Linked DNA regions of Homo sapiens: region 2 is linked to region 1. The links come from fine-mapping of genetic effects on gene expression. A gene starts in region 1. The other region holds a variant in brackets. All regions are shown on one strand. Distances are between the middles of the regions. Region 1 holds the start of MASP2 (MBL associated serine protease 2). Region 2 holds the start of TARDBP (TAR DNA binding protein).

Evidence for each region. PIP is the estimated chance that this variant, and not a neighbour inherited with it, causes the effect. A credible set is the group of variants that fine-mapping cannot tell apart.
Region 2: its variant is the best candidate, but not a certain one, in a credible set for the expression of MASP2 in tibial nerve (GTEx, PIP 0.72).

Annotation. Positions count from the first base shown.
Region 1 is chr1:11,043,335-11,058,849 of GRCh38, forward strand. MASP2 (MBL associated serine protease 2) reads right to left here and starts at 3,905. Exons shown (of 11, transcript NM_006610.4): 1 at 3,869-3,905; 2 at 3,557-3,785; 3 at 3,222-3,399; 4 at 2,074-2,205; 5 at 5-201. The coding sequence starts at 3,873. SRM (spermidine synthase) reads right to left here. Exons shown (of 8, transcript NM_003132.3): 3 at 15,466-15,515; 4 at 13,270-13,423; 5 at 12,677-12,760; 6 at 12,447-12,592; 7 at 11,628-11,750; 8 at 11,255-11,551. The coding sequence ends at 11,531. RefSeq lists enhancers at 2,410-3,242, 8,734-8,813, 9,421-9,500, 9,831-10,080.
Region 2 is chr1:11,004,432-11,019,946 of GRCh38, forward strand. TARDBP (TAR DNA binding protein) reads left to right here and starts at 8,223. Exons shown (of 6, transcript NM_007375.4): 1 at 8,223-8,312; 2 at 9,285-9,534; 3 at 12,413-12,576; 4 at 14,302-14,442. The coding sequence starts at 9,297. RefSeq lists silencers at 7,656-7,885, 9,295-9,541 and enhancers at 7,926-8,255, 7,966-8,933. The variant T/G (reference allele first, on the strand shown) is at 6,431.

The DNA.
Region 1 (15,515 bases):
AGACCTTGAGAAAGTCGTAGGGACACAGGGTTTCAGGGTGTGTCTCCACATCGAAGGACTCCACAAAGTCCAGAATGACACTGAACCCCTCCTCCAGGCTGATGCTGTAAGTGCAACTGGAGAGTTTGGGATACGGCCGTGGGTATTCAGGGCTGCTGAGCTCCCCAGACCTCTGGGTGAAGACCTGGCCGGAGCACAGGGCTGGAAGGAGGGAAGGCAGGGGAGTGACTTGGCGTGCCCTCTATCAGCCCTCGCACCAACAGCAGGGTGGATGCCTTGGGGAGCAGGAAACTGGGACAGGGATGTGGCTGGGACATCTGCATCCCTGGGTTGGGCTGGGCCCTGCAGGTGGCCAGCCCCTGAGGCCTACCCAGAAACCAAACGACCCACCCGATGGCTGAGGGGCCGCTTAGAGAGGGGGTTTCTCTTGCTTTGAGGCTTTAGCTGAAACAGGCAGCACTCGGGATGGAGCGCACAGGCCCTCACTCACACCCCCAGGGAGCGTGGTGGTGTCCTGAGCCAGAGTCGCAACCCCAGGGTAGGGGCTAGAGCACTGAGTTCCACCAGGCTCTGCCGGGGCGGGGGGCGGGGGTGGATGGACACACAGGAAGGAGGAAGAAGGGACACTCTCCTTGGTCCCTGGGAATTCGGGAAAAGAGAGGAGCATCTCCTCGAGCCTAAGGGCCCCTTCGGAGCTCCCCTAAATTCCCTTACAGCCACCCCAGTGATTCCCAAGTTTATTCATCAGGGGTCTCCTACCCGAACCCAGCCAAGACCAGCCAGCCCCCTGGGTTCCTGGAGGAACCATCCGGAAGAAGGGTCTCTCATCACCCCCTTTCCCCAGGTCTGACCCCTGCCCTGGGGGCTGCTCCTGGAAGTTCAAGGCAACAGTGATCATGACTGAGTCTGGTGCTCTCCTTCCTCGCTGGAACAGCTGATGCTGCTGCCACGGGCGGGGTGTTGGGCTGGGCTCTATCCCTCAAGGAAGGCTTGGTCCCCATCCCATACCACCACCCCACCCCCAGCTGCAGTGGGGGGCATTTGAGTTGTGAGGCCTCTAGGAAGTGAGGAGCCCCAACATTGCCTGCCTTCTTCCACGTGGCTGTGCCCTATGGGGCAGTGGGAATCACCCCTGGATTTGCGGGGGACCAGATTACCCCTCAATGAATATCTCCCAGGGTGTCTCCTCTGTGGGTCAGGCTCCTCCAGGCCAGACCCTGAATGGGGGTGGTTCAAGATTACTCTGGGCTCAGCCTCTGGGGACCTGGACTCGAGCGAGGCCTTGCCCCTCTCCGGGCCTCAGTGCCCCATCTTCAAAACGGGGGGTGAGGCCAAGGAGCCTGTGGCCCCATGGAGGAGGCTCCCACAGACCTGGGGTTCATGAGGCTGTGAGGAGGGTAGGCAGAGAGGAGCGCACCCCGCCGCCTCCCGACCCTCCCACCCCAGAGACACGTGGCAGCAGGTGGGGTGGGGCCAGGTTTATTATTGGGTCCATGGTGGGTGAATGGGAGTTGGGGCACAGCCATCTCAGCCCAACCCGGAGCTGAGGCCAGCAGGCTGGCTCTGGCTTCTGACCTGCTGGGCAGGCCGGAGCTCCAGGGGAGGCTAGAGGCTCTGCTCTGGAAGAGAGATCAGAGAGGCAAGGAGAGACACCGAGAGGGAGAAACCGAGTCGGGGGAGGCAGGGTCAGCGCCAGCAGGTGGGGCTGCCCACGCCCCAGAGCACTGGCCCGTCCCACAGTGCAGGGAACCAGGGAACCAGGTCCCAAGGAACGAGGGCTAGATACCCCCGACTCTCCCGTGGCTACATGAGGGGTTCCCAGAGCCCAGGTGGAACCAGGTACACAGTGGGATGTTAGAATTAGTCTCAGTCGCTAGGGCAGGGTGGCACTGATGAGCCTGGCTGCTGAGAGGGGAAGCAGGGCTGAGAAGGGGAGCTGGAGGCAGCAGGGCCTAGAAGCACCCAGTGTCCAGGGCCCAGGCCCTCCGCACCCCTGGGCAGAGCAGCAATGGCCCTGAGGAGCCCCGGGTATCCCAGGAGAGGGTGCGTTGGGGCCCAGGCAGCCTCCCTCACCTGAGCAGGTGCGCTTGTTACGGTGCAGGACGTAGCCTGCGCGGCAGGAGCAGTAGAAACCGCCCAGGTGGTTGTGGCAGTGGTGGTCGCAGGTGGGCGCCTCTCCCGGGGCCACCTGGCACTCGTCAATGTCTGGGGGAGAGGCAGGGCCAGGCAGGCCGTCAGGAGGGAAAGAGGCGGGATCCAGCCTGGACTCCTCCCAGGAGATCCATGACCTCAGAGTGGACCTCAGAGGAGGCCTCGTCCTGTCTAGGGTGCGGGACTGGTGCCGGGCCAATCACCTTACAGGCCTAGGGTCGCTGCAAGCTCCCAGCAGCGCTGGGAGAAAGATGCAAACATCACCTCTGTTAAACCAGTGGGAGTTTCAGTGTCCGGCCCGAGGTCACCCAGCTAATGAGGGGAGTCAATCAAACCCAGGGGGCGGGGCTACAGCGCTGAACCCTTGCAGCAGCTTCCTAAGGAGCAGAGAAATTGAGCCACTTGCCAGAGGTCACACAGTTGGTCTCTGCAGGGACTGGGATCTGAAATCAAACATCCTGGCAGCGCTCCCGCTGGCAGGGCCCCACTTTGTCAGCTGTAAATGGGGCCCTCGGCCCCTGCGTCGTTTTTGTTTTTTGTTTTTTGAGACGGAGTCTAGCTCTGTCGCCCAGGCTGGAGTGTAGTGGTGCAATCTCTGTTCACTGCAGCCTCCACCTCGCAGGTTCAAGCAATTCTCCTGCCTCAGCCTCCCTAGTAGCTGGGATTCCAGGTGCGCACCACCACGCCCAGCTAATTTTTGTAGTTTTAGTGGAGATAGAGTTTCACCGTGTTGCCCTGGCTGGCCTTGAACTCCTGACCTCAAATGATCAGCCAGCCTCGGCCTCCCAAAGTGCTGGAATTACAGGCGTGAGCTGCTGCGCCCGGCCAGTCCCTGCGTCACTTGAGGCGATGCTGTCCTCAGATCCCTGGCTCAGAGTTGGCACTCAGCCCATGTGAATGGAGGTCACGGCTGTTTTGGTCTTTGCATTGTGGATGATGTCAGGCCAGAGGCCTCTCCCCTGCCCTGGGAAAGGTGGGGAAACTGAAGGCAGGGCTGCCTGGCCTAAGACAGAGTTACCCCCACAGCCAGCTGCGCAGACTGAGATGTTGCAGGACCCCTCTTGGCTCACCCTCGGCTGCATAGAAGGCCTCGAACCCCGTGAACGGCTTCTCGTTGGAGTAGTCGGAGCGGAAGGTAATGTCCAGGCTGGAGCCCAGCGAGTAGAAAGTGTCCTTGCCAGGGGCCCGCTCCGTGTCTGTGCTCTCCTGCCCGCACAGCGTGGCCAGCACCTTGGCCCCCGAGCTCAGCTGTGGGGTCAGGTGTCACAGGGAGTGAAGGCAAGACCCAGGCCTGATCTCCCTCCTGGCCAAGCCTGGCCCCTGCTCCCAGGTGTCCCTGAACCCTGGCTACTCCTTGGGGACCCCCCGACCCTGAGAAACCCCAGCCCTCCCGTCCTGACGGCACCTTGACGAAGTCGTACTCGCAGAGGTGGGAGAGCTCCAGGTCGAAGTGGGTGAAGTAGAGGCGCAGGCGGTAGCCGGGGGGTGCAGTCAGGGTCCAGCGCCGCTCCTGGTCATTGGCATACTCCCCTGGAAAGCCGGGGGATGCCAGGCGCCCGAACACAGGTTCAGGCCACTTCGGGCCCAAGGGGGTGGCCACCGAGCCACACAGAAGGCCCAGGAGGGTCAGCAGCCTATGGGCAGGGCAGGGGCGGTGAGGGCCCAGGCCTGTGCTCCCACCCCACACCCTGCAGGGAGGCTGTGGGCGCCCACCTACCTCATGGTGTGCCCGTCCAGCTGGCCTGGCCTGGTCTGCAGCCCTACGCTGGTCTCACCTTTGATCTGTTTGTCCAGTGACCTGCCCCTGCCCCCAGCCTCCCTGACTCTGGGATTCTGGGAATCGACTCCATGACTCCAGCCTGCTCAGAGTTCCAGGCAGGCAGGACAGGCTGCTCTGGGAGCCAGGAGTCGGACCTAGGTAACAACAGCCTGGAAACAAATCCTGGCTCTGCCCCTCACCCCTCCCTTTTTTTTGGATCTTGTTCTGTTGCCCCGGCTTCAGTGCAGTGCTGCAATCATAGCTCACTGCAGCCTCTACTTCCTGTGTTCAAGCAATCCTCCCACCTCAGCCTCCCAAGTAGCTGGGATTACAGGCGAGCACCACCACACCTGGCTAATTTTTTATTTTTGGTAGGGATGGGGTTTCTCCATGTTGGTCAGGCTGGTCTTGAACTCCTGCCCTCAGGTGATCCACCTGCCTTAGCCTCCCAAAGTGCTGGGATTACAGGTGTGAGCCACCGTGCCCAGCCTCAGGCTGGCTAATTTCTTAAACCCTGTCAGAAGGACCTGGTGCCACCAATTCCCGATTCCCTTGCAGGCTTAGAAGTCGCTTTTGGCTGGGCTCGGTGGCTTATACCTGTAATCCCAGCACTTTGGGAGGCCAAGGTGGGTGGATCACGAGGTTGGGAGTTTGAGACCAGCCTGACCAACATGGTGAAATCCCATCTCTACTAAAAATACAAAAATCATCCAGGTGTGGCAGCGCGCACTTATAATCCCAGCTACTCGGGAGGCTGAGGCAGGAGAATTGCTTGAGCCTGGGAGGCGGAGGTTGCAGTGATCCGAGATCGCACCACTGCACTCCAGCCTGGACGACAGAGTGAGACTCCACCTCAAAAAAAAAAAAAAAAAAAAAGAAGTTGCTTTCCAGGCAGTTATTTCACACCTGTTTATCTGTTCTTCCAGCTTCCAGAACTTTGAGGCTGCTGCTTCCTCTTCCACACTCTGTCCTCATGGATTCATGTCTTGTCTTTTTTTTTTTTTTATCCCCTTTATATTTGTTTTTGTTTTTTGTAGAGATGGGGGTCTCCCTGTGTTGCCCAGGCTGGTCTTGAACTCCTGAGCCAAAGCGATGCACCTGCCTCAGCCTCGCAAAGTGCTGGGATTACAGGTGTGAGCCACCAAACCTCTGCCTCCGGGGTTCGAGCAATTCTCCTGCCTCAGCCTCCCGAGTAGCTGGGATTACAGGCATGCGCCACCACGTCCGGCTAGTTTTGTATTTTTAGTAGAGACGGAGTTTCTCCATGTTGGTCAGGCTGGTCTCGAACTCCCAACCACAGGTGATCCACCCGCCTCAGCCTCCCAAAGTGCTGGGATTACAGGCGTGAGCCACCATGCCTGGCCTATTTTCTTTTAGAGACCGGGACTCTGGCTGGGTGTAGTGACTCCTGCCCATAATCCCAGGAGGCTGGGAGGCTGAGGCAGGTGGGTCGCCTGAGACCGGGAGTTCAAGACCAGCTTGGGCAACATAGCAAGACCTTGTCTCTAAAAAAAAAAAAAATTTTTTTAAATTAGCCAGGCATGGTGGCATGCACCTTTAGTCCCAGCTACTTGGCAGGCTGAGATGGGACAATCGCTTGAGCCCAGGAGGTCTCAAGGTTGCAGTGAGCCATGTTCATGCCATTGAACTCCAGCCTGGGTGACAGAGTAAGATTTTGTCTCAAAAAATACATACATAGCAATAATAATAATGCAAGAAAATTTCCCAGAACTGAAGAACGTGATACTGATCGAAAGTGTGCCCCAAGTGCCCAGAAAAGGAGATAAAAATATTAATACAGCTTTACACATATTTAAAAACACTGGAGAGAATAATTATGTTTTACAAACAAAGAGAAAGAGAAAAATCAAATAGTAAATCACATGCAAAAGATCAGGAAAAAGAATTATTTTGGAGTTAAACCTCATCTCTACTAAAAATACAAAACTTAGCTGGGCATGGTGTTGCGTGCCTGTAATCCCAGCTACCTGGAAGGCTGAGGCAGGAGAATCGCTTGAACCTGGAGGCTGCAATGAGCCAAGATTGTGCTACTGCACTCCAGCCTGGGACACAGCGAGACTCCATCTCAAAAAAAAAAAAAAAAAAAAAAAAAAATAGACGGAGTCTCGCTCTGTCCCAGGCTGGAGGGCAGTGGTACGATCTCAGCTCATTGCAGCATCCACCTCCTGGATTCAAGCGATTCTGCTGCCTCAGCCTCCCAGGTAGCTAGGATTAGAGGCATGTGTCAACACGCCAGGCTAATTTTTGTATTTTTAGTAGAGACAGGGTTTCACCATGTTGGCCAGGCTGGTCTCGAACTCCTGACCTTGTGATCCGCCAGCCTCAGCCTCCTAAAGTGCTGGGATTACAGGCGTGAGCCACCATGTCCAGCCGAGACTCCATCTTAAAAAAAAAAAGAAAAGAAAAAGAAAGAAAGAAACTACACCTGTCTTGTGACTGCTCATTAATCTTGCCAAGGTGGAGGCCGGGCACGGTGGCTCACACCTGTAATCCCTGCACTTTGGGAGGCTGAGGTGGGTGGATCACGAGGTCAGGAGATTGAGACCATCCTGGCTAACACGGTGAAAGCCCGTCTCTACTAAAAATACAAAATTAGCCGGGTGTGGTGGTGGGCACCTGTAGTCCCAGCTACTTGGGAGGCTGAGGCAGGAGAATGGCGTGAACCCGGGAGGCGGAGCTTGCAGTGAGCCAAGCTCGCGCCACTGCACTCCAGCCTGGGTGACAGAGCAAGACTCCGTCTCAAAAAAAAAAATCTTACCAAGGTGGTGGTTCAGCCCCCGAACAGGGAAGAGAGTAGTTTTAGGGAGAACTATTATTATTCTTGTTTCAAGTTAAACTCTAAATTCCTCCGCCGGTCAGCTGGGCCTACACCCAGGAATGAGCAGGGTCAGCTTGGAGGTCAGGAGCAGGATGGGGTCGGTTATGTCATAATTTTGCAAGGGTGGTTTCAATAGGAAGACATAAGGTCCAAGAGATGCCATTCACTAAGGGACTCCATTGGGGGCGGTGAGAAGGCTCTGGACAGCTTCTCCAGAAAGGGGACGATGACAGAACACCTGTTGAGTCCAAGGAGCATTAGAGAATTGGTGAAAAATTTGGGGCCAAATTAGTGATAAATTTATTGAAAACTAAGTAAATGAGAAACAAACAAAAAAAGAACCTCCAGGGAAAACAAGAAGCTGTGTAGGAGATAAAATGTTATCATAAGGCCAGATGCGGTGGCTCACACCTGGAATCCCAGCACTTTGGTGGTTTGTTTTTTTTTTTTTTTTTTGAGATGGAGTTTTGCTCGTTGCCCAGGCTGGAGTGCAATAGCGCGATCTCGGCTCACTGCAACCTCCGCCTCCTGGGTTCCAGTGATTCTCCTGCCTCAGCCTCCCTAGTAGCTGGGATTACAGGCATGCACCACCACACCCGGCTAATTTTGTATTTTTAGTAGAGATGGGGTTTCTCCATTTGGTCAGGCTGGTCTTGAACTCTTGACACTGGGCCCAGCCTTAATCCCAGCACTTTGGGAGCCCGAGGCGGGTGGATCACTTGAGGTCAGGGGTTTGAGACCAGCATGGACGTGCCTGTAAGCCCAGCTACTCCGCCTCCCAAGTTCAAGCAATTCTCTTGCCTCAGCCTCCCCAGTAGCTGGGCTTACAGGTGCCCGCCACCACACCCGGCTAATGTTTGTACTTTTAGCAGAGACCACGTTTCACCATGTTGGTCAGGCTGGTCTTGAACTCCTGACCTCAGGTGATCCGCCCGCCTCGGCCTCCCAAAGTGCTGGGATTACAGGCATGAGCCACAGTGCCCTAACTCAAGCAATTCTTAAACAAAAGCCTGGTCAGGCGCGGTGCTACCTGACTGTCAGTTACATGGAGGCGGGCCAGAGTGCAGCCTGATCAATGCTAAATTATAACTCTATTTCTGTCCAGAATTATTCTTTTATTTTTTCTTTTGCTTTTTCCTTTTATTTTCTTTAACTGGTTTTTTTCTTTTTTTTCCTTTTTTTTTTTAAGACAGAGTCTTGCTCTGTCACCCAGGCTGGAGCGCAGTGGCGCGATCTCGGCTCACTGTAACTGTAACCGCCCAAGGGGTTCACCTTGCCAGCTGTCTAGACAGAGCTGATTCATCAAGACAGGGGAATTGCAATAGAGAAAGAGTAATTCACGCAGAGCTGGCTGTGCGGGAGACCAGAATTTTACTATTACTCAAATCAGTCTCCCCGAACATTCGGGGAGTAGAGTTTTTAAGGATAACCTGGTGGGTAGGGGGAAGCCAGTGAGCCAGGAGTGCTGACTGGTCAGAGATGAAATCACAGGCAGTCGGAGTCAGAGCTGTTTTCTTGCACTGAGTCCTGGGTGGGGGTCACAAGATCAGATGAGCCCGTTTATCCATCTGGGTGGTGCCGGCTGATCCATCAAGGCAGGATCTGCAAAATATCTCAAGCACTGATCTTAGGAGCAGTTTAGGGAGGGTGGGAATCTCGTAGCCTCCAGCTGCATGACTCTAAACCATAATTTCTAATCTTGTGGCTAATGTTAATCCTACAAAGACAGTCTAGTCCCCAGGCAAGAACATCTGCTTTGAGAAAGGGCTGTGACCGTCTTTGTTTAAACTATAAACTAAATTTCTCCCAACGTTAGTTCAGCCTACGCCCAGGAATGAAGAAGGACAGCTTGGAGGCTAGAAGCAAGATGGAGTTGGCTAAGTTAGGTCTCTTTCACTGTCTCAGTCATAATTTGGCAAAGGCAGTTTCACAACTTCCGCTTCCTGGGTTTAAGTGATTCCCCTGCCTCAGCCTTCCGAGTAGCTGGGGTTATAGACGTGCGCCACCACACCAGGATAATGCTTGTGTTTTTAGTAGAGACGAGGTTTTGCCATGTTGCCCTCCCAACACTCCTGGCCTCAAGTGATCTGCGCACCTCGGCCTCCCAATGTGCTGGGATTACAGGCATGAGCCACCACCCGGGGCTGCGCTCATTGTTCATGAATTTGTACAGCTTCATCTCCAGAGCCCTCCTGATCCTTTCCTGGCAGTCATTGGGTGGGGTGAAAGTCCCAACCCTTCAGTCTTTAGGTCTTACTTACCAGCCCCACCCTGAGGCTCCCCCGGGGCTCTACCCTAGACCACTGCATTAGCATAAACTCGGGAGTTCTCTAACAGAGCATATAATGAACGACAAGACACGCCTACCGATCAGGAATTTCCAAAGGTGTTAGCGGCTCCGTGACAGGAACTGGGGACAAACACCAAATCGATTTCTTCTTCTACTACAGAAGATAAACCCCAAATAATCAGCTCCAAGAGGGAAAGGGGCTGCGGGAGGAGGACTGTGATTTTTCTTCTGACAAGCCGCACGGACCCATGAATCCTTAAGCCAGGGGCCTGGCTAATTATCATAAATCAAATTTTGAAAAGTCTAGATAGGATTGATGTTATTCCCCATGCCACACTGGGCCTGTTTGTGGCCCAAAGATTTCTGGGACGCTGGGGGACCCAGGTTGTGTCCTCATCAAGGCTGTTTCTGTTTCAGCAGATCATCCTGGGCTGCATCGCACCCACCCAGTCGTGGGGCTCAGGCTTGCCCCCATCCCTGGTGCATGCCTCTTCGCGGCGGCCAGGTGTGTGTATAGACTATAGGCTGGGGAGGCGCAGGATCTACGCTGCCGGCAACTTCATCTTCCTGCAGCTGCTTCCCAGATCTCCTGCCTCCCAGATGGCCCCGGCTGTTTCCACAACCTGGTCCACCCTCCCTTCTCTCGGGCCGGCACTGGTTGAGGGCTGCGTCGCACGTGCTTCTCACCAAAGCTTCCTAACAGGGACGGTGTGCTCCCCCTCTGACATCGGGGTAACCGGCAGAGGGCCTGCGTGGCTGCAGGTCACAGAGCTGAGGGAGGCAGAGTTGAGATTGAGATCTGGACCGATTCCAGAGCCCTTGGGGAAAGGCCCTCACACTTAGGGGGTCACGGGATCGTCCCTCTAAGGGGGCAGCATTCCCTGCCTGGATCTTGGCCAGGGAGTAGATGTCAGAGAGACCATCCATGCCGGGACCTCCAGAGTGCCTGGCCTGAGATGCAGGAGACCCTGGGGTGAGCAGGGTGGAGTGGCGTCGGACGGTGGCTGCTGATTGGCTGTGTGTCCTTAGGCACATCGCCTTGCCTCTGTGCAGCAGGAACAATGCCTGGCGGGCAGGTGGTTGTGAAGGTTAAATGAAAGTGCCTGGCCCACCCAGCTGCAGCCTGGCCTGTCAGGCTCCAGAAATAGCCCCTGCCAACCCACCTGAACGCCAGCTGCTCCTCTCGGGCCTTCCCTGAGACTATGAAGGCCCGGGGGCAGACGCCAGCTCCCCAGACTGATTTGAAAGGTCAGGGTGGCCTGGAGAAGTTAGCCTGAGGTCAGATCTGCTGATGGGCCAAAGGTCTGAAGGTGCTCAGTCTGGTGAATTCACAGGGGTGGGGAGTGGGGGGCAGGTGGAGACTGGAGGGCTATGACTGGCCTGAAGCCAGAGTTGATGGCGAAACTGAATCCCCCTTACTCTGGTGTCCCAGAAAACATACCCGGGTGAGTTAGGGCTCCAAGGTGGCTGCCTCGGCTGGGAGTGGGGCCTCCCTCCCTGATGCGTCCGCTAGCCCAGCCCCTGCCCAGGGTGGGGAAAGGGGTTGGCAACTCAGGCCCATGCAAAGAGGGTTCCTTTCCTGTCCTCCCACCACCGTTGGGTCCTGGAAGGCGGGAGTTCAGCACCTTGGAGAGGGGACAGCCCTGGTCCTCGCAGTCCCTGGTGGGGTGCCCACACTTGCTTTCTCAATTTGTCCACATAGGGGGCGGGGCATGGTGGGAATTTGAACCCAAGTCTGAATGCCGGGTGGAGTCAGGGCACAGTCACTGGGCCAGTGTTAAGCTCCTGATGTGCTTAAAAAGGCCGAAGGTAACCAGCCCCGCCACCCCTTCCTGTATTTGCCCTGGAGTACCTGGATGGGACCTGACTTACACCTGTGAGTGTCCCCAATTTTTCTGAGAATGCTCCCGGGCAGCCCCACCCTGATCTCACCCACCCCACTGCCCTGGGGGGCTGTCACCAGTGGCCTTGTGAAGGGCTTGGTAAAAGGACAGCTAAGTCAGCTTCCCAGGACAGCTCTGGGTCCCACGTGACGACTGCGGTGACCCTCTGTGCCCCAGGCTATCCACGATGGCCCGCCTGCAGCCTCAGCCCTGCAGCAGACACTTGGGGGTCAGCCAGCAAGGCCTCTGCAGACCCTCACCCCAGAGGCACCCAATGGTGAATGTGGCCCTGCCTGGGCCCAGCCAAGGTCAGGAGACACAGGACTCCAATCTTTGCTATAAATACACGTGTTTGGTGAGTGAGGGGCAACAGAAGGCAGAGAGATGGCGCTGTACACAGCTGGTATAGGCTTGGAGGTGGAACGCCAGAGAGACAGACACACAGACAGTCCGCCCAGCAGGGCAGGCCGGGCAGCATTCTGGGGCTTGTAACACTTGGTTGGTGGGCGAGAGCCAGCAGGAGGTCCGGCCCGGGGCTGGAGGGGCCGAGGCACCCCGCAGGCTCCAAGGTCCGAGGTCCTGGGTGGCATCAGTGGTGGCGCCTGGGCTCAGCTCACATCATTCAGGGCCTGGAGGGACATGAGGCCAGTCAGGAGGGCGCTCTGGGTCCCTGGGTCCCACCACCCAGCCCCGCAGGCCACCCACCTTGCGGGCAAACTCGGGCAGCACAAAGGCGGCGCGGTGCACGTCGGAGTTGTAGTACTTCAGCTGCATCTGCGCCACCTGCTGCTGTGTCAGCGGCTGCACCGGCTCCTGGAAGTTCGTGCTCTGGGGACCGGGCCAGGGGCACATCAGGGGGGGCACTTTTTTTTTTTTTTTTTTGAGACGGAGTCTCACTGTTGCCACGCTGGAGTGCAGTGGCGTCATCTCAGCTCACTGCAACCTCTGTCTCCCAGGTTCAAGTGATTCTCCTGCCTCAGCCTCAGGTACGCGCCACCACGCCCGGCTAATTTTTTTTTTTTTTGTATTTTGAGTAGTGATGGGGTTTCTCCATGTTGGTCAGGCTGGTCTTGTACTCCTGACCTCAAGTGATCCGCCCACCTTGGTCTCCCAAAATGCTGGAATTACAGGCATGAGACACCGCACCTGGCCTGGGGAGGGTTTTTTTTTTTTTTTGAGTCGGAATCTTCCTCTGTTACCCAGGCTGGAATGTAGTGGCGCAATCTCGGCTCACTGCAAGCTCCGCCTCCCGGGTTCACGCCATTCTCCTGCCTCAGCCTCCCCAGCAGCTGGGACTACAGGCGCGCGCTGCCATGCCTGGCTAATTTTTTTGTATTTTTAGTAGAGACGGGGTTTCACCGTGTTAGCCAAGATGGTCTCGATCTCCTGACCTTGTGATCTGCCCGCCTCAGCCTCCCAAAGTGCTGGGATTACAGGTGTGAGCCACCGCGCCCGGCAGGGGCAGGGATCTCTATTTATGCCCACCTTCCCCCCAACCCCCACCCCCAGACACCCCCATCTCACCGGGTTCTTGCTGCACAGCATGAAGCCGATCTGGCCGCTGGGGTAGGTGGGGATGGTGCAGTAGGCATAGGCCACCACGGGGAACAGGGACTGGCAGAACTGCCGCATCTCCTTGATGAGGTCCAGGTGCAGCCACTGGCACTCGCCTGGGGGCCCCTAAGCATCAGCATCCGGCAGGGCCTGCCCTGCCCCACCCCGCCCCGCCCCAGTGCTCCAGGCCTGTGGCTCACCCTGGCAGCAGAGGACACCATCTTCCTTGAGGGCTGTCTTCATGAGCTGGTAATAGGACTCCTTGAAGAGACTTTCGGCGGGGCCTGGGGAAGACAGAGGGAGACACACTGAACAGTCTGGCTGTGACCTCCAGGGCCACTGTCACCCACACAGCTACCAGGTGGCCAGAGCCAGGATCTGAACCCAGGTCTGTGGGGGATCCACACCTGAATCCCATTCTTGGGGGAGTCTCATTGGCACCACAGCAGAGGAACCTCTAACCTAGGCCTTCGTTCAAGACTAGAACCTGCCCCCACTCCAGTGCTGACCACTTCAGAGCAGAGGGGAGGCTGAAGAGGACACAGGGTCCTCAGTGTCCCAATGCCAGATCCCCACTCTCCTTGGTCACCAGCTTGTGAATCTGGGCAGTCGCCTGGCTCCTGCCTACTGTCCTGAGCCATGTTTCAGAGGGCAGGTAACAAATGAGAAGGGAAAAGTACAGCTCTAGTTCGGGGGGTGGGAGGCCGCTCTATCCTTTACTCTGAAGGCCTGGGGGAGGCTGACCTCCAGACCTGCAGCTGCCAGAAAACCCTGGGGCCCATCCACTGCTTACCCATGGGGTCTGAGGAGTCAGTGATGATCACGTCGAAGGCATCCTGATTCTGTTTCATGAACTCAAAACCGTCACCCACATGTAGGGTCAGCTTCGAGCTAGAGTAGCCAATGGCCATGCCTGGCAGGAACTTCTTGGAGACTTGGATGACATCCTGGAGGGGATGGGAGGGACCAGTCTGGGCCAAGGGGCTGGGGGACCTGGAGCCAGCACAGCCACGTGGGACTCTCCAAGTGCCTCACAGGCAAGCCGCCTTGGCCAACCCCTTCCCTTTTTTTTATTATTTTTTTTTGAGACAGGGTCTCACTTTGTGGCCCAGGCTGGAGTGCAGTGGCATCGATCATGGCTCACTACACCCTCGGCCTCCGGGGCTCAGGTGATCCTCCCCCATCAGCCTCCTGAGTAGCTGGGACAAGTGTGTTCAATCATACTTGGCTACTTTTTAAATTTTTGGTAGAGATAGAGTCTCCCTATGTTGCCTCGAACTCCTCGATCCTCCCACCTCGGCCTCCAAAAGTGCTAGGATTACAGCTGTGAGCCACCACACCTGGCCCCTTTTGGGAACCTCAGTTTATAATGTGTAAAGCGGGGAGAACTCTGGTACCTCCATTTCTCCTTGAGAGCTGGCTCCTGCCGGCGGCTTGGGCTCCTCTCTCCCATCCCTACCCCCTCCTTCCAGACCAAATCGCCCCATCTGAGTGGCTTTCTTGTCGCTTCCTATTTTATTTATTTTTCGAGACAGTCTTGCTCTGCTGCCCAGGCTGGAGTGCAGTGGCACGATCTCAGCTCACTGCACCCTCCTGCCTCAGCCTCCCGAGTAGTTGGGATTACAGGCGCACGCCACCAAGCTGGGCCATTTTTTTTTTTTTTTTTTTATTTTTAGTAGAGACCTTGTGATCTGCCCGCCTCAGCCTCCCAGAGTGCTGAGATTACAGGTGTGAGCCACCAGCGCTTGGCCTGTTTCCTATTTTAGAAGGATGCAATTCCAACCTCTGGCCAGGAGAACCTCCCCCTCCCTGCACACGGCCACCTGCTTTTCACTGAGGTCTCAGCTCAAACGCCACCTCCTGGAGGCCTGCCCTGACCACCCCCCATGCATTCACAGGAACCCTGCCTTCTCCTGTCCCCCAGCCCCTGTCTTGCCTTCATCAGACCATCCTTTGATGTCTCTATTTTTGTTGTTTGTTTTTTTTGAGACAGATTCTTCCTCTGTCACCCAGGCTGGAGTGCAGTGGCGAGATCTCGGTTCATTGCAACTTCCGCCTCCCGGGCTCAAGTAATTCTTCCACCTCAGCCTCCCTAGTAGCTGGGTTTACAGACATGCACTACCATGCCCGGCTAATTTTTGTATTTTTAGTAGAAATGGGGTTTCACCAGGTTGGCCAGGCTGCTCTTGAACTCCTGACCTCAGGTGATCTGCCCGCCTTGGCGTCCCAAAGTGCTGGGATTACAGGTGTGAGCCACCACGTCTGGCCATCTGATGTCTCCTTTAACTAGGACATCAGCTCCTAGAGGGCAGGGACTGATCTGTCGTCTACCACTGTCCCCATACCCGGGCAACACCTGGCACGTAGCATGATTTTAGTGAGCAGCTACTGAGTGTAAGGGGTAACGTACAAATAGTTGAGCTGTCTTGGGGCCCTGCCTGGGGCTCAGATTAAAAATCAGCTTAGTCGGCTGGGCGTGGTGGCTCACGCCTGTAATCCCAGTACTTTGGGAGGACGAGGCTGGCGGATCACCTGTGGTCGCCAGGTCCGAGACCAGCCTGACCAACATGGAGAAACCCTGTCTCTACTAAAAATACAAAATTAGCCGGGCATGGTAGCGCATGTCTGTAATCCCAGCTACTCCGGAGGCTGAGGCAGAAGAACTACTTGAGCCCAGGAGGTGGAGGTTGCAGTGAGCCGAGATCGCACCATCACACTCCAGCCTGGGCAACAAGAGCGAAACTCTGTCTCAAAAAAAAAAAAAAAAAAAAAATCAGCTCAGTTTTAGTAAGAGCTCGCCACGCAGGTGCCCTCACCACCTGCCAGGCCCTCTGCCATCTGGTTTTCCTACTGAACCCTCCCCGACCAGGTGTTTTCCAGATGGAGAAACAGGCCCTACCTGCCTTGCTCGGGGGTGTGCAGCCATTTCAGGGCACAGCTGGCCGCTGGGAGAACCAGGACTCAAACCTGGCTCTACGCCGGCACTCACCTCGTCGATCTCACACTGGACCACGGACTCCACGGAGGGGTGCTTCACCA
Region 2 (15,515 bases), 39 kb before region 1:
TTTTTTTTTTTTTTGAGACGGAGTCTCGTTCTGTCGCCCAGGCTGGAGTGCAGTGACGTGATCTCGGCTCACTGCAAGCTCCACCTCCCGGGTTCACGCCATTCTCCTGCCTCAGCCTCCCGAGTAGCTGGGATTACAGGCGCCCACCACCACACCTGGCTAATTTTTTGTATTTTTAGTAGAGACAGGGTTTCACCGTGTTAACCAGGATGGTCTCGATCTCCTGACCTCATGATCCACCCACCTCGGCCTCCCAAAGTGCTGGGATTACAGGCGTGAGCCACCGCACCCGGCCAGTGGTCACAGTCTTAATTGAGAGATCAAATTTAGCATCACTAAAAGTGAAACAGCCAGACATTATGTGGCTCTTGATAAGGAGCATTGGGATATTCAAGGCTTTGCCCAAGAAGTGTTGTGGCCATTGTGTTTAACCTGGATGTGATCGTGTCTTTAGATCTAACTTCCAGTATGCAGGAAAAATAGGGAATAGAGGAGTGTGCTGAGTAATACAACAGGGAAGCAACCAGATGAATTCAGAAGGTGCGACATTCTACAAACTACCTGACCAGAGCTCTTCCAAAAGTCAGTATCTTGTATAGGGAGATTATTCTAGATTTTAAAAAGATTAATGGACATACTAAGCAAATGTAATGCATGAAGCTTAATTGGATCCTATTTTAAGAAAATACAGGCTGGGCGCAGGGACTCACACCTGTAATCCCAGCACTTTTGGAGGCCGAGGCGGGCAGATCACTTGACCCCAGGAGTTTGAGACCAGCCTGGGCAACATGGTGAAACCTCATCTCTATAAAAAATACAAAAAAAATATCCTGGTGTGGTGGGATGCACCTGTAGCCCCAGCTATCCAGGAGACTGAGGTGGGAGGATCATCTGAGTCCCGGAGGTCGAGGCTGCAGTGAGCCAGGATTGTGTCACTGCACTCCAGCCTTGGTGACAGAGTGAGACCTGTTTCAAAAAAAAAAAAAAAAAGAAAAGGAAAGAAAGAAAGAAAAGAAAAAGAAAACAGCTATAAAAGACATTTGAGGGGAACAATTGTAGAAATTTGAATGTGGACCAGGTATTAGATGATAGCAGGAAATAATTATTCATTTTCTCTTATGATTATCATTGTGGTTATGAAGGACAATATTCTTGTTCTTAGGAGAAGCAGGATGAAGAATTTAGGAGTGAAATGCTGTGATGTCTGCAATTTACTTTCTTTTTGGTGGGTAATTGGGGGAGATGGGGTCTCACTCTGTTGCCCAGGCTGGAGTGCAATAGTGCAGTCTTGGCTCACTACAACCTCTACCTCTTGGCACCACAGCCTCCTGAGTAGCTGGAACTACAGGTGCATGCCACCACACCTGGCTAATTTTTGTAGAGACAGGTCTCGTTATGTTGTCCAGGCTGGTCTCCAACTGCAATCCGCCCACCTCGGCCTCTCAAAGTGCTGGGATTACAGGCATGAGCCACAGCGCCCTGCAAATGTACTTTCTTTTCTTTCTTTTTTTTTTTTTTGAAACGGAGTCTCACTCTGTCACCCAGACTGGAGTGCAATGGCACGATCTCGGCCCACTGCAACCTCTAACTTGCGGGTTCAAGTGATTCTCCTGCCTCAGCTCCCGAGTAGCTGGGATTACAGTCGCCTACCACTGCACGTGCCCAGCTAATTTTTGTATTTTTAGTAGAGACGGGGTTTCACTGTGTTAGCCAGGATGGTCTCGATCTCCTGACCCTGTGATCTGCCTGCCTCGGCCTCTCAAAGTGCTGGGATTACAGGTGTGAGCCACTGCGCCCGGCCAAACACTTATAATCTGAATCAAATCATGAGGAAACATCAGGCAACCCCAAATTGAGGGACATTCCAAAAACAAAGCAAGCCTGAACTCTTCAAAAGTGCCAATGGCATGAAAGACAAAGAAAGGCTGAGAAAGTGTTCTAGATTGAAGGAGTTGAAAGAGCCACAATGATGGAATACAATGTTCCTGGATTGGATCCTAGATCAGAGAGAAAAATTACTCAAAGGCACTTTGGGAGGCCGAGGCGGGCTGATCACAAGGTCAGGAGATGAAGACCATCCTGGCTAACACGATGAAACCCTGTCTCTACTAAAAATAAAACAAAAAAATTAGCCGGGCGTGGTGGCAGGCGCCTGTAGTCCCAGCTACTCAGGAGGCTGAGGCAGGAGATTGGCGTGAACCCGAGAGGCGGAGCTTGCAGTGAGCCAAGATCGCGCCACTGCCCTCCAGCCTGGGCGACAGAGCGAGACTCCATCTCAAAAAAAAAAAGAAAAATTATTCAAAGGACATGTTTTGTTTTTGTTTCTTTCTTTTTTTTTTTTTTCTTGAGACAGGGTCTCACTCTTGTCACCCAGGCTGGAGTGCAGTGATGTGATCACTGCTCACTGCAGCCTCGACCTCCCCAGGCTCAGGTGATTCTCCCACCTCAACCACCCAAGGAGCTGGGACTACAGGTGTGAACCACCATGCCCGGCTTATTTTTTTTTTTTTTTTTTTGTAGAGATGGGGTTTCACCATGTTGCCCAGGCTAGGCCTCTAACTCCTGGGCTCAAGGGATCTGCCCACCCACCTCAGCCTTCTAAAGTGCTGGGATTACAGGTGTGAGCCACCACAGCAACCTGTTTTTGTTTCTTTTTCTGCGGGGGCGGGAAGGGCCAAATTTTAAAATGGTTGTATATTAGAAAAGAGTGTTACATTAATGTTAAAATCCCGAATTTGATAACAGTATTGTGATTGTGTAAGAGAATGTCTTTGTCCTTAGGAAAGACAAACTTTTTAGAGGCAAAGGGGCACGCAGTCTGTCATTAATCTCAATGGATAAGTAAGAACATATATGTTATTAATTAATTTTTTTTTTGAGATGGAGTCTCGTTTTGTTGCCCCGGCTGGAGTGCAGTGGCGTCATCTCAGCTCATTGCAACCTTTGCCTCCTGGGTTCAAGTGATTCTCCCACTTCAGCCTCCCAAGTAGCTGGGAATACAGGCATGAGCCACCATGCCCAGATAATTTTTGTATTTTTAGTAGAGATGGGGTTTCACCATGTTGGCCAGGCTGATCTTGAACTCCTAGACCTGAGGTGATTTGCCCACCTTGGTCTCCCAAAGTGCGGGATTACAGGCGTGAGCCACTGCGCCCAGCCATGTTATTAATTTACATGTCTAGAGAGAGTGAGTGATAGACCAAATGTGACATAATGTAATCAGTTGATGAATCTGGATGAAGGGAACACAGCAGTGCTTTGCACTATTCTTGGAACTCTATCATAAATTTTAAATTATTTCAATGTAAAAAATTTGTTTTTAAAATCTAAATTAGACCTAGACTATTTGGGAAGGCAGCTTCTAATTTTGGCAGGAGCTAAAAACATGGAGATGAAGAGGAAATTAATCTTGATACAATAAAGATTTTTATTACTTTATTACTTTATTACTTGCTTTGTCGCCCAGGCTGGAGTGCAACAGCTTGGCTCACTGCAACCTCTGCCACCTGGGCTCAAGTGATCCTCCCACCACAGCCTCTCCAGTACCTGTAACCACAGGTGTACATCTCCAGGTCCGGCTAAATTTTGCATTTTTTGTAGAGATGGGGTTTCACCATGTTGCCCAGGCTGGTCTCGAACTCCTGGGCTCAAGTGATCTGTCTGCCTCGGCTTCCCAAAGTGCTGGGATTACAGGTGTGAGCTACTGTGCCTAGCCTAAAGCTACTTTTTTTTTTTTGAGATGGAGTTTCGCTCTTGTTGCCCAGGCTGGGGTACAATGTCTCAGTCTTGGTTCACTGCAACCTCCGCCTCCTGGTTTCAAGTGATTCTCCTGCTTCAGCCTCCCAAGTAGCTGAGATTAGAGGCATGCGCCACCACGCCCGGCTAATTTTGTATTTTTAGTAGAGACAGGGTTTCTCCATGTTGGTCAGGCTGAACCCGACCTCACATGATCCGCCCGCCTCGGCCTCCCAAAGTGCTGGGATTACAGGTGTGAGCCACCACTCCCGGCCCTAAAGTTACTTTTATTTAAATATCTTTATTGGCTGGGTGGTGGTATGTGCCTGTAATTCTAGCATGTGGGAATGCCAAGGTGAAAGGATCACTTGAGGCAAGGAATTCATAACCAGCCTAGGCAACATAATGAGACCCTGTCTTTACAAAAAAGTTTTTTTAATTAGCCAGATGTGGTGGTGCACACCTACATAAATAAATAAATAAATAAATAAATAAATAAATAAATAGGGCCGGGCACAGTGGCTCACGCCTGTAATCCCAGCACTTTGGGAGGCGGAGGCGGGCAGATCACGAGCTCAGGAGACTGAGACACGGTGAAACCCCGTCTCTACTAAAAATACAAAAAATTAGCCGGGCGTGGTGGCGGGCACCTGTAGTCCCAGCTACTTGGGAGGCTGAGGCAGGAGAATGGCGTGAACCCGGGAGGTGGAGCTTGCAGTGAGCCGAGATTGGGCCACTGCACTCCAGCCTGGGTGACAGAGCAAGACTCCGTCTCAAAAAATAAATAAATAAATAAATAAATCTATGTATCATTATTGCCCTAGTATTTCTTTCAGTTTTGTCTTTTTTTTTTTTTTCTTTTGAGACAGAGTTTCACTCTTGTTGCCCAGGCTGGAGTGCAATGGTGTGATCTTGGCTCACTGCAACCTCTGCCTCCCGGGTTCAAGCGATTCTCCTGTCTCAGCCTCTGGAGTAGCTGCGATTGCAGGTGCCTGCCACAATGCCCTGCTAATTTTTTGTATTTTTAGTAGAGACGGGGTTTCACAATGTTGGCCTTGAACTCCTGACCTCTGGTGATCCACCCACCTCGGCCTCCCAAAGTGCTGGGATTACAGGCGTGAGCCACCGCGCCCAGGCTTCTTTCAGTTTTCAGGAATGTTGTGGAGCTGTGTCCTGTTTGCCTCATGGAGCTGATGAGCTGGGAGAATTCAAGGGGGTTGATGGAAGGGGAGAAGGTAAGTCCCCAAGTGACCCAGTTGAAAACCAGGGCCTGGGCCAGGCACAGTGGCTCATGCCTGTAATCCCAGTACTTTGGGAGGCTGAGGCGGGAGGATTGCTTGAGGTCAGGAGTTGGAGACTAGCCTGGCCAACATGGTGAAACCTCGTCTCTACGAAAAATACAAAAATTAGCCAGGTGGGGTGGTACACGCCTGCAGTCCTAGCTACTTGGGAGGCTGAGGCAGGAAAATAGCTTGAACCCGGGAGGCAGAGGTTGCAGTGAGCTAAGATTGTGCCACTGCACTCCAGCCTGGGCGACAGAGCAAGACTCTGTCTTGAAAAAAAAAAATGTTGTGTTTCAAACAACTTTTGACAATCAGTGCTGTAAAGCTGAATCCCAGAGACAACTGAGATAGGAGCAGGAAGATCTGTGGTCCAGTCTCCCTCTGGCCTTATAATTATCTTCCTGAGTTACTTACCTTCTTTGAGACAGTGTTTGCTTGTCCTCCCAACTAGCCTGAAAACTTCTTAGGAGAAGGGCCAGCCTTTGGGGTCATGTTCCTGTGTGACCTGTCTCTAGGAACTTCTGCATACCCAGCTCTGCCCACTTGGAGCTAGTGTCCAGGACTCCACAGCACTACCCGCACTAAATACCTCGGTCTCAGTCTTGTGACAGAAAGTGGCCAGTGTGGTGGACATAGTGCAGAGGTTTAGGGTCTGACCAACCTGGGACAGCAATTTATGGGCTAGGTGACATCCTTGAGCAACTGTATGACCTCAGGCCTGTCATATGGTCTCTGAGCCTCAGGTTTTTCTTCTGTAAAATGGGAGTGATAAAACCGACTTCTCTGCTGGGTATGGTGGCTCACGCCTGTAATCCCAGCACTTTGGGAGGCTGAGGCAGATGGATCGCTTGAGCTCAGGAGTTGGAGGCCAGCTTGGGTAACATGTCAAGACCCTGTCTCTACAAAAAATATAAAAAATTGGCTGAGTGTGGTGGTGTGCACCTGTGGTCCAAGCTACTCCGGAGGCTAAGGTGAGAGGATCGTTTGACCCCTGGAGTTAGAGGTTGCAGTGAGCCGAGGTCACTGCACTGCACTCTAGCCTGGGTGACAGAGTGAGACCCCATCTTAAATAAATAAATAAAGTATTTTGTGTAAACACTTGTAACTGTATTTCATTGAGTGTGATACATGTATATACAAAGAAACATAAATAGTTGCCAGTTAAACTATGACACATCATCATCAACTGGAACTGGAACTGAAATCACATACTGACTTCAGCAATGTGAAACATTGGCCGGTCGCGGTGGCTCACGCCTGTAATCCCAGCACTTTGGGAGGCCGAGGCGGGCGGATCACGAGGTCAGGAGATTGAGACCATCCTGGCTAACACGGTGAAACCCCGTCTCTATTAAAAACACAAAAAAATTAGCCGGGCGTGGTGGCGGGCGCCTGTGGTCCCAGCTACTCAG[T/G]AGGCTGAGGCAGGAGAATAGAGTGAACCCGGGAGGCGGAGCGTGCAGTGAGCCGAGATAGCGCCACTGCAGTCCAGCCTGGGCAAAAGAGCGAGACTCCATCTCAAAAAAAAGAAAAAAGAAAAAAAAAAGAAATGTGAAACAAAGGCCGGGCGTGGTGGCACTTTGGGAGGCCGAGGTGGGCGGATCACCTGAGGTCAGGAGTTTGAGACCAGCCTGGCCAACAGGGGTTAAAAATACAAAAATTAGCCGGGCATGGTGGTGCATGCCTGTAGACCCAACTACTCAGGAGGCTGAGGCAGGAGAATTGCTTGAACCGGGGAGGCGGAGGTTGCAGTGAGCTGAGATTGTGCCACTGCACTCCACCTTAGGCAACAGAGGGAGTCTGAAAAAAAGGAAGAGAAAAGAAAGAGAGAGAGAGAGAAAGAGAGAGAGGTAGGGAGGAAGGAAGGTGGGAAGGGAGGGAAGGGGGGGAAAGGGAGGGAAGGGAGGAAAGGAAGGGAAGGAAAGGAAAGAAAGGAAAGAAAAGATAGAAAAGAAAGGTGGCTCGTGCCTGTAATCCCAGCACTTTGGGGAGCTGAGGCAGGCGGATCACTTGAGGCCATGAGTTCGAGATCAGCCTGGCCAACATGGCCAAACCCTGTCTCTACTAAAAATACAAAAATTAGCCGGGCATGGTGTCTTTGCACGCCTATAATCCCAGCTATCCCTTGAACCTAGGAGTTGGAAGTGGCAGTGAGCTGCAGATTGCGCCACTGCACTCCAGCCTGGGGGACAAGAGCGAGACTCCGTCTCAAAAAAAAAAAAAAAAAAAGTGAAACAAAAAGTGTGCCTTAAAATAGATGAAGTACTGTATTATTATTATTATTAAAGGGCTGGAGCCAGAACAAGTTAGCATTTTGTGCCTCGAGATTCAAATCCCAGGTCTACCATTTATTCCTTGGGTGACATTTTTTTGGGGGGAGGGGCTGGAGGACAGGGTCTCACTCTGTCGCCTAGACTGGAGTGAAGTGGCGCGATCTCGGCTCACCGCAACCTCCGCCTACCGCGTTCAAGCAATTCTCCTGCTTCAGGCTCCCGAGTAGATGGGACTACAGGCGCGCGCCACTACCGCCCGGCTAATCCTTGCGTCACTTTAAGCAAGACACTTGATCTCTCTGTGCCTCAGTTTCCTCACCCGCAGAATGAATATCAATAGCTCCTGCTACACAAAACTGTTTGGGCTATTAAATATGTGAATACTCAGAAAGTACCTGGCACAAAGTAGCCTTATCATTGCTATTATTTAGAACAAAGTTATTGTTTCCAGGTTTGGAGGTGGGCTGGCGGAGGGAGGAGAAGACGCACTAGGTTGCCTTTCAGAAAAGGGGTCCAGGCCTTATCCTGCCTCCCAGGTGGACTCGGCCCGGGATCCCGAGCCCCGCCCCCTCCAGGCCCCGCCCCGCCCCGCCCTCGCTGGCCGAGACTCTGTGCTACTCTCGCGCGCTTTGAAAGTGCGCGAGCTCCGACCGAGACCTGGGCCGGCGGTTGGTCGGCCGAAACCATCTGCTACGTTACGTGGGGGGAGGTCAGCTCCTATACAGCCACACTTTTTTCAATCTTCAGCTTTTCAGGCCTAGGTCCTGGTTTTATTTTAGCTTTCAGAGCTTCTCTGTAGGCTTGAATTTCCAGGAGGCAGCCCGAGTCCCTGGGGAGAGGGTCATCGTGGCTCTCGTCGGTGCCTTCCACCTCTGGACAGGCAACCGGTGGGAGAGGACGCCGGTGGGCGGGGGGAGGAGGCGGCCCTAGCGCCATTTTGTGGGAGCGAAGCGGTGGCTGGGCTGCGCTTGGGTCCGTCGCTGCTTCGGTGTCCCTGTCGGGCTTCCCAGCAGCGGCCTAGCGGGTGAGTCGCGGAGCCTTCTCACTGAGGACGCCGTAGGTGCCTCGGCTTCTGCATTGGGGCGGCCCGAGGCAGACGCAGCGGCTTCGGACCCTGCCCCGGGAAGTCAGCCGTGAGACCGGGCCTAGTCCTGCCCGAGCGGGCTCGCGCGGGAGCGTCGTTAGGTCCTGGCACGGGGAGGCCGGTGGCGCCGAAACGGGGGGCCGGGCCCGCGGTGCCGCGTAGCCTGAGGCGGAGGTTGGCCCCGGACCCGGACAGTGCCGGAGCCTTCGGTACTTTGTACTTCGAGGGACGCTGCCAGCTTGGGCCTGGTGCTCCTGCGCCCCACCCCGGGCCGCGCCGAGAAACTCCTCCCTCGGCTGGCACGCGCGGGCTTCTGGGAGGCGACGGCCGGCACCGCCAGGACCTGTCGCCGCGGGCCTTGGGGCTCGGGCTCGCAGAGCCCCCGGAAGCCCCAAAATGAGGAACAGAGGGAAACTTTTCTCCTGTTCTTTACACCTGGTTCACTGCCCATATTCAGTCTTCAGGTTCAGCTGATGGATCGCTTGCTTAGGAAAATCGACTGGGACCTATCACGCCCATGCCTCAGCCAGTTAGGCTCCTCCTCTGCCTTCAGGATTACTTAACGACTAACCCGATTGTCATAAAATAGCTACTGTTTATTGTTCCCTTGCATACCCTAGCTTGTAACCAGCAAGCCACGTTGGACTCACAGTTACAGTTTCAGTACCTGACGCATCATAAGCCTTCAGGGAAAGTTTTTTGAATGAATGAACTGGCGAGGCATCACATTTTGATAGGAAATCACTACCCTTACCTTCACCTCGTCATTTTTCAGGGATAACCAATGCATATACGAATCCAGACAAGCATTTTTCTGGAAGTCAGAACTCTGACATGGTTTGGGTATTATCATTATAAGGAAACAGTTATTCTGACATGAATGTTGTTCATTCATATCTCTTTTCTCTTTAGGAAAAGTAAAAGATGTCTGAATATATTCGGGTAACCGAAGATGAGAACGATGAGCCCATTGAAATACCATCGGAAGACGATGGGACGGTGCTGCTCTCCACGGTTACAGCCCAGTTTCCAGGGGCGTGTGGGCTTCGCTACAGGAATCCAGTGTCTCAGTGTATGAGAGGTGTCCGGCTGGTAGAAGGAATTCTGCATGCCCCAGATGCTGGCTGGGGAAATCTGGTGTATGTTGTCAACTATCCAAAAGGTTTGTTACCATTTGGTTTTTGTAATCATGCTGAAGTGTGTTCAGGTGTGTGTCTCATCCATGGATCTTAGCCTCTTTTGGTGGCAGAATGTCTCCTGAAACTTAAGTATTTCCTTGAACTTCAGTGTTAGACAAGTTTGGAAGACCACGAGTCTAAATTTATGGAAACTGGGGATTGTAGATCATTTTAAAAGAGAAAACAATGTATTTAAAAAATATCTGAATAAACTTTGCCAAGTTGATGATAAATTTCAGGAATCACTAAGAATGTTTTGTACATAAATCATTGTTGTAAATAGATTCTTCTGAAGTGCTTCAGTGTTTGGATTTGATCATTGTCCTTTTGGTGTTACATCATTCATTCAGCAAATCTGAGTTCATTTTTTCCCTTAAATGAGCAAACAGTTGGAGTAGCCAAATCTTGAATTAGTGCAGTTCCAATTACAATTTCGAGGTTCTGGTCTTATCCTTCTCTCTGCCTCTTATCAATGATGTTCTAAATCTAAGAAAAGGAAGCATGAAGTTTAAGAAGTGTGCCAAGGAAATACCTAATTTCAGCATTTTGAAGTAGTGTGCTGTTAGTAGTCGATCTGTCTGTGTGTTCCTTTTATTATAACTTGGTATTGCAACAAAGTCCATCAAATTTGGTCAGTATGCAAGACACCCTTTTACATGTCTAGGAAAACTTTAGGGCTAGGCACGGTGACTCATGCCTGTAATCCCAGCACTTTGGGAGGCCGAGGCAGGTGGATCACCTGAGATCAGGAGTTTGAGATGAGCCTGGCCAACATGATGAAACCCCATCTCTATCAAAAACACAAAATCTCTGGATGTGGTGGTGGGTGCCTGTAATACTAGCTACTCAGGAGGCAGACGCAGGAGAATCGCTTGAACCGGGAGGCAGAGGTTGCAGTGAGCAGAGATTGTGCCATTGCACTCCAGCCTGGGCAACAAGAGCGAAACTCCGTCTCAAAACAAAAAAAAACGAAAACAAAAATTGGCGTGGTGGCGGGGGCCTGTAGTCCCAGCTAGTCTGGAGGCTGAGGCAGGAGAATCGCTTGAACCTGGGAGGCGGAGATTACTTTAAGCTGAGGTCGCGCCGCTACACTCCAACCTGTGACAGAGCAAGACTTCGTCTCAAAAAAAAAAAAAATTGATAATGTAAACTCGGGGTTTTTAGTATGCTGTTTCTTCAGCCAGTGGGTATAGATTAATATTTACTCAAATTTAAAATGTCAGGCTCGGTGCAATGGCTCACACCTGTAATCCCAGCACTTTGGGAGGCTGAGGCAAGCAGATCACCTGAGGTCCGAAGTTCAAGACCACCCTAGCCAACATGGTGAAACCCTGTCTCTACTAAAAATTCAAAAATTAGCCAGGCGTGGTGGTTCGCGCCTGTAGTCTCAGTTATTTGGGAGGCTGAGGCAGGAGAATTGCTTGAACCGGGAGGTGGAGATTGCAGTAAGCTGAGATCGTGCCACTGCTCTCTGGCCTGGCAGCAGAGCGAGACACCGTCTCAAAAAAAATTTTTTAAATGTCATTTAATTTATCTCCCCAGGCTGGACATGGTGGCTCACATCTGTAATCCCAGCTACTCGGGAGGCTGAGGCAGGAGAATCACTTGAACCCGGGAGGCAGAGGTTGCAGAGAGGGGAGATTGCGCCACTGCACTCCAGCCTAGGTGACAGAATGAGACTCCGTCTCAAAAAAAAAAAATTATCTCCCCTTCTCTTCTAAATAACCTAAGGTTGAGGTTATTTGGGGGGTTTTTTTGTTGTTGTTTGTTTGTTTGTTTTTTGAGACAGTCTCACTCTGTCGCCCAGGCTGGAGTGCAGTGGCACGATCTTGGCTCACTGCAACCTCCGCCTCCCAGGTTCAAGCAATTCTCTGCCTCAGCCTCATGAGTAGCTGGGATTACAGGTGCCTGCCACCACGCCTGGCTAATTTTTGTATTTTTATTTATTTATTTTTATTTGTTTATTTATTTTTTAGACGAAGTCTCGCCCTTGTCGCCCAGGCTGGAGTGCAGTGGCACGATCTTGGCTCACTGCAACCTCCGCCTCTTGGGTTCAAGCGATTCTCCTGCCTCAGCCTCCCAAGTAGCTGGGATTACAGGCACCTGCCACCACGCCCGGCTAATTTTTTCTTTATTTTTAGTATAGACGGCGTTTCACCATCTTGGCCAGGCTGGTCTTGAACTCCTGACCTTGTGATCCACCTGCCTCAGACTCCCAAAGTGCTGGGATTACAAGTGTGAGCCACCGCGCCCAGCCAGTTATGTTTTTTTAAGTAAGCCAAACTTTTGGTTTCTTTTTCTTTTTTGAAATTAGAGATGGAGGCTCTCGCTCTGTTGCCCAGGCATATTGCAGTGGCTATTCATAGGCACACTGCAGCCTCAAACTCCTGGACTCAAGTCGTCCTTCCTCCTCAGCCTCCTGAGTTGCTGGAACTTACAGGCATACACACCACTGTACCTGGTTTTCTGTTTTATTACAAAAGTTGTGTATTTGTTGTTGAATGTTTAGGAAAGATAAAAGTTAAATCTTCATCAGGATATACAAGTTGCTGATATTTAAAGTCAAAGTGAAGTAGAATTATTTTTGTTTTGATAAACCTTTTGAGAGGGAGAGATTGTAATCCGGAAATGCTACAAAAAACAAACTTGGAAATCACTGAATTTGCACCAGAAAAGCACCTCAGACACTAAACTTAAGCCTTTATTCTGTCCTCTAGAGCAAACATCACTTCTTGCCAAGTTTTCAGTGTCTTATTCTTCTTAGAGTCTTCTTTTTGCTTCTCATTTCTAGATGTAGGAGGTAGTGTTTTTAAAGAAGTGCTAAGTGAAGATTTCTAAAAGGTTTCTGCTCGTTTTATTTAGATAACAAAAGAAAAATGGATGAGACAGATGCTTCATCAGCAGTGAAAGTGAAAAGAGCAGTCCAGAAAACATCCGATTTAATAGTGTTGGGTCTCCCATGGAAAACAACCGAACAGGACCTGAAAGAGTATTTTAGTACCTTTGGAGAAGTTCTTATGGTGCAGGTAAACTTCGATTGCATCAAACAGTTTTTCTTTACCAGTGAATGAGTATCTAGCATTTATTTATTGGTATAAATAGAGATGGGGTATCACTATGTTCCCTAGGTTCTGGCGTCAAACTCCTGGGCCCATACTGTCCTCCTGCCTCGACCCCAATGTGCTGAGCCACCATGCCCAGCCACAATCTTGTTACCTTTCTTTTTTTTTTTTTTTTTTGGAGACCAAGTCTCACTTTGCTGCCCAGGCTGGAGTGCAGTGGCACGATCTTGGCTCACTGCAACCTCCACCTCCCGGGTTTAAGTGATTTCTCCTGTCTCGGCCTCCTGTATCTGGGATTACAGGTGCCCGCCATCATGCCTGGCTAATTTTGTATTTTTAGTAGAGACAGGGTTTCACCCGTTGGCCAGGCTGTTCTTGAACTCCTGACCTCAAGTGATCCACCTGCCTTGGCCTCCCAAAGTGCTGGGATTACAGGTGTGAGCCACCGCGCCCGGCCACATTCTTGTTATTTTAATGGCACTGTCCTTTCTGTTACACAGATGATACTTCCAATATTTGTTATATTTATACATATATGTTGTACCCTATGTTATTGCCTTTGATATTGTAAAATCCTACTGTTGCATGAAGGCTTAAGGGAAGTAGGTGACAATAGCTTTTCTTTATATATTAAACTAATGGGAGGTTTTTCCATTTCATTTAAAATTTGTAAACATTAAATTTAGTTTATCTTTGAATTCATTCTAAGACATTCTGTTAAAATCCTGTTGTGGTGGCTCATGCCTGTAATCCCAGCATTTTGGGAGGCTGAGGTGGGAGGGTTGCTTGAGGCCAGGAGTTCAAGGCCACCTTGGCGAACATATCCAGACTCAGTTTCTCTTTTTTCTTTTTTTTTTGAGACGGAGTCTTGCTCTGTCACCCAGGCTGGAGTGCAGTGGCATGATCTCGGCTCACTGCAAGCTCCGCTTCCCGGGTTCATGCCATTCTCCTGCCTCAGCCTCCCAAGTAGCTGGGACTACAGGTGCCTGCCACCACGCCTGGCTAATTTTTTGTATTTTTAGTAGAGATGGGGTTTCACCGTGTTAGGCAGGATGGTCTCGATCTCCTGACCTCATGATCTGCCCGCCTCCGCCTCCCAAAGTGCTGGGATTACAGGCGTGAGCTACTGTGCCTGGCCTCTCTTTTTTTCTTTTCTTTTTGGAGACAGGGTCTGGCTCTGTCAGTCAGGCTCTAGAGTGCAGTGGTGCAATGTAGGCTCGCTGCAACCTCCACCTCCTGGGTTCAAGCTATTCTTGTGCCTCAGCCTCCCAAGTAGCTGGGACTACAGGTGCATGCCACTACACCTGGCTAATCTTTGTATTTTTTGTAGAGACAGGGTTTTGCTGTGTTGCCCAGGCTGGTCCTGAACTCCTGTGCTCAAGCGATCCACCCTCCTCAGCATCCCAAAGCACTGGGAATACAGGTGTGAGCCACCGCGCCTGGCCCCATCTCTCTTTTTTAAAAAACTCAAAAACATTTCTGTTGTATAAGTGAGTTTTGCTCTGTTGTTAACACAGTATGGATTCAATATTAACCTCCTTGTTTTTACTGTTAAGACTAACTTGGTTTAAGTTTTAAGCCACTGCATCCAGTTGAAACCATTCAAATTGTTTTCTAAGGAACTATGATTTGGGAATGGAGTGTGTGAGTATGTGCACTTTTAGAGTAAACTTGTATCATCCTTTCTAGGTCAAGAAAGATCTTAAGACTGGTCATTCAAAGGGGTTTGGCTTTGTTCGTTTTACGGAATATGAAACACAAGTGAAAGTAATGTCACAGCGACATATGATAGATGGACGATGGTGTGACTGCAAACTTCCTAATTCTAAGGTACTTGCGTCTGTGCTTTGGGAATTTTTGCCAACAAACTTCCTTAGAGGATTGTAAGATAAAATGTTAAACACACTTAGAAAAGATAGCGGCAGGGTGTGTTCATGAAATCCTTTTGTCTTGTTGAAGTCTTTGGCCCTTAGTGCATGCTGAATATTTTATGCTTGTTTGAAATATTTAGTTTATTACTTCTCCAAACTAAACCTTTGTTCATTTTGTTCTTCCTTTTCGCTATGGATGGAAAAGAGAAAAGGTTATTTGTCAAGTTAATAGTTTCTTACATAGTTATATGTTAAAACATAAAGAGAATCAGAATACATACATTAATTGTTATAAAGACCTAACTTTTTCCAAGCAAACAAATAACATTGGCTTATTTGGAACATCATCATCTTTGCCAAGAGATTGCTTATTTATTAATTTTCTCAAATCCAAACACAGTCATGTATCACATGGCAAAGTTGATCAGTCAGCAGCAGACCTCGTGTACAGCAGTGGTCCCATAGGATTATAACACTGTTTTTACTGTACCCTTTCTATGTTTAGATACACAAATACTTACCATCATGTTATAGTCGCCTACAGTGTTGAGTACAGTAACTTGAAAGTTTGTGGCCTGGGAGCAATAGGCTATACCATCTAGCCTAGATGTGGGGTAGGCTATGCTATCTGGGTTTATATGATGTTTGCACAACGACTTTTTTTTTTTGAGAGAGAGAGTCTCACTCTGTCATCCGGGCTGGAGTGCAGTGGTGCAATCTCAGCTCACTGCAAGCTCTGCCTCCCGGGTTCACGTCGTTCTCCTGCCTCAGCCTGCCGAGTAGCTGGGACTACAGGTGCCCACCAACACGCCTGGCTAATTTTTTGTATTTTTAGTAGAGATGGGGTTTCACCGTGTTAGCCAGGATGGTCTTGATCTCCTGACTTCATGATCCGCCCATCTCGGGCTCCCAAAGTGCTGGGATTACAGGTGTGAGCCACCGCACCTGGCCCTTTTTTTTTTTTTTTGAGATGGAGTTTCACTCTTATTGCTCAGGCTGGAGTGCAATGGTGCAATCTTGGCTCACTGCAAC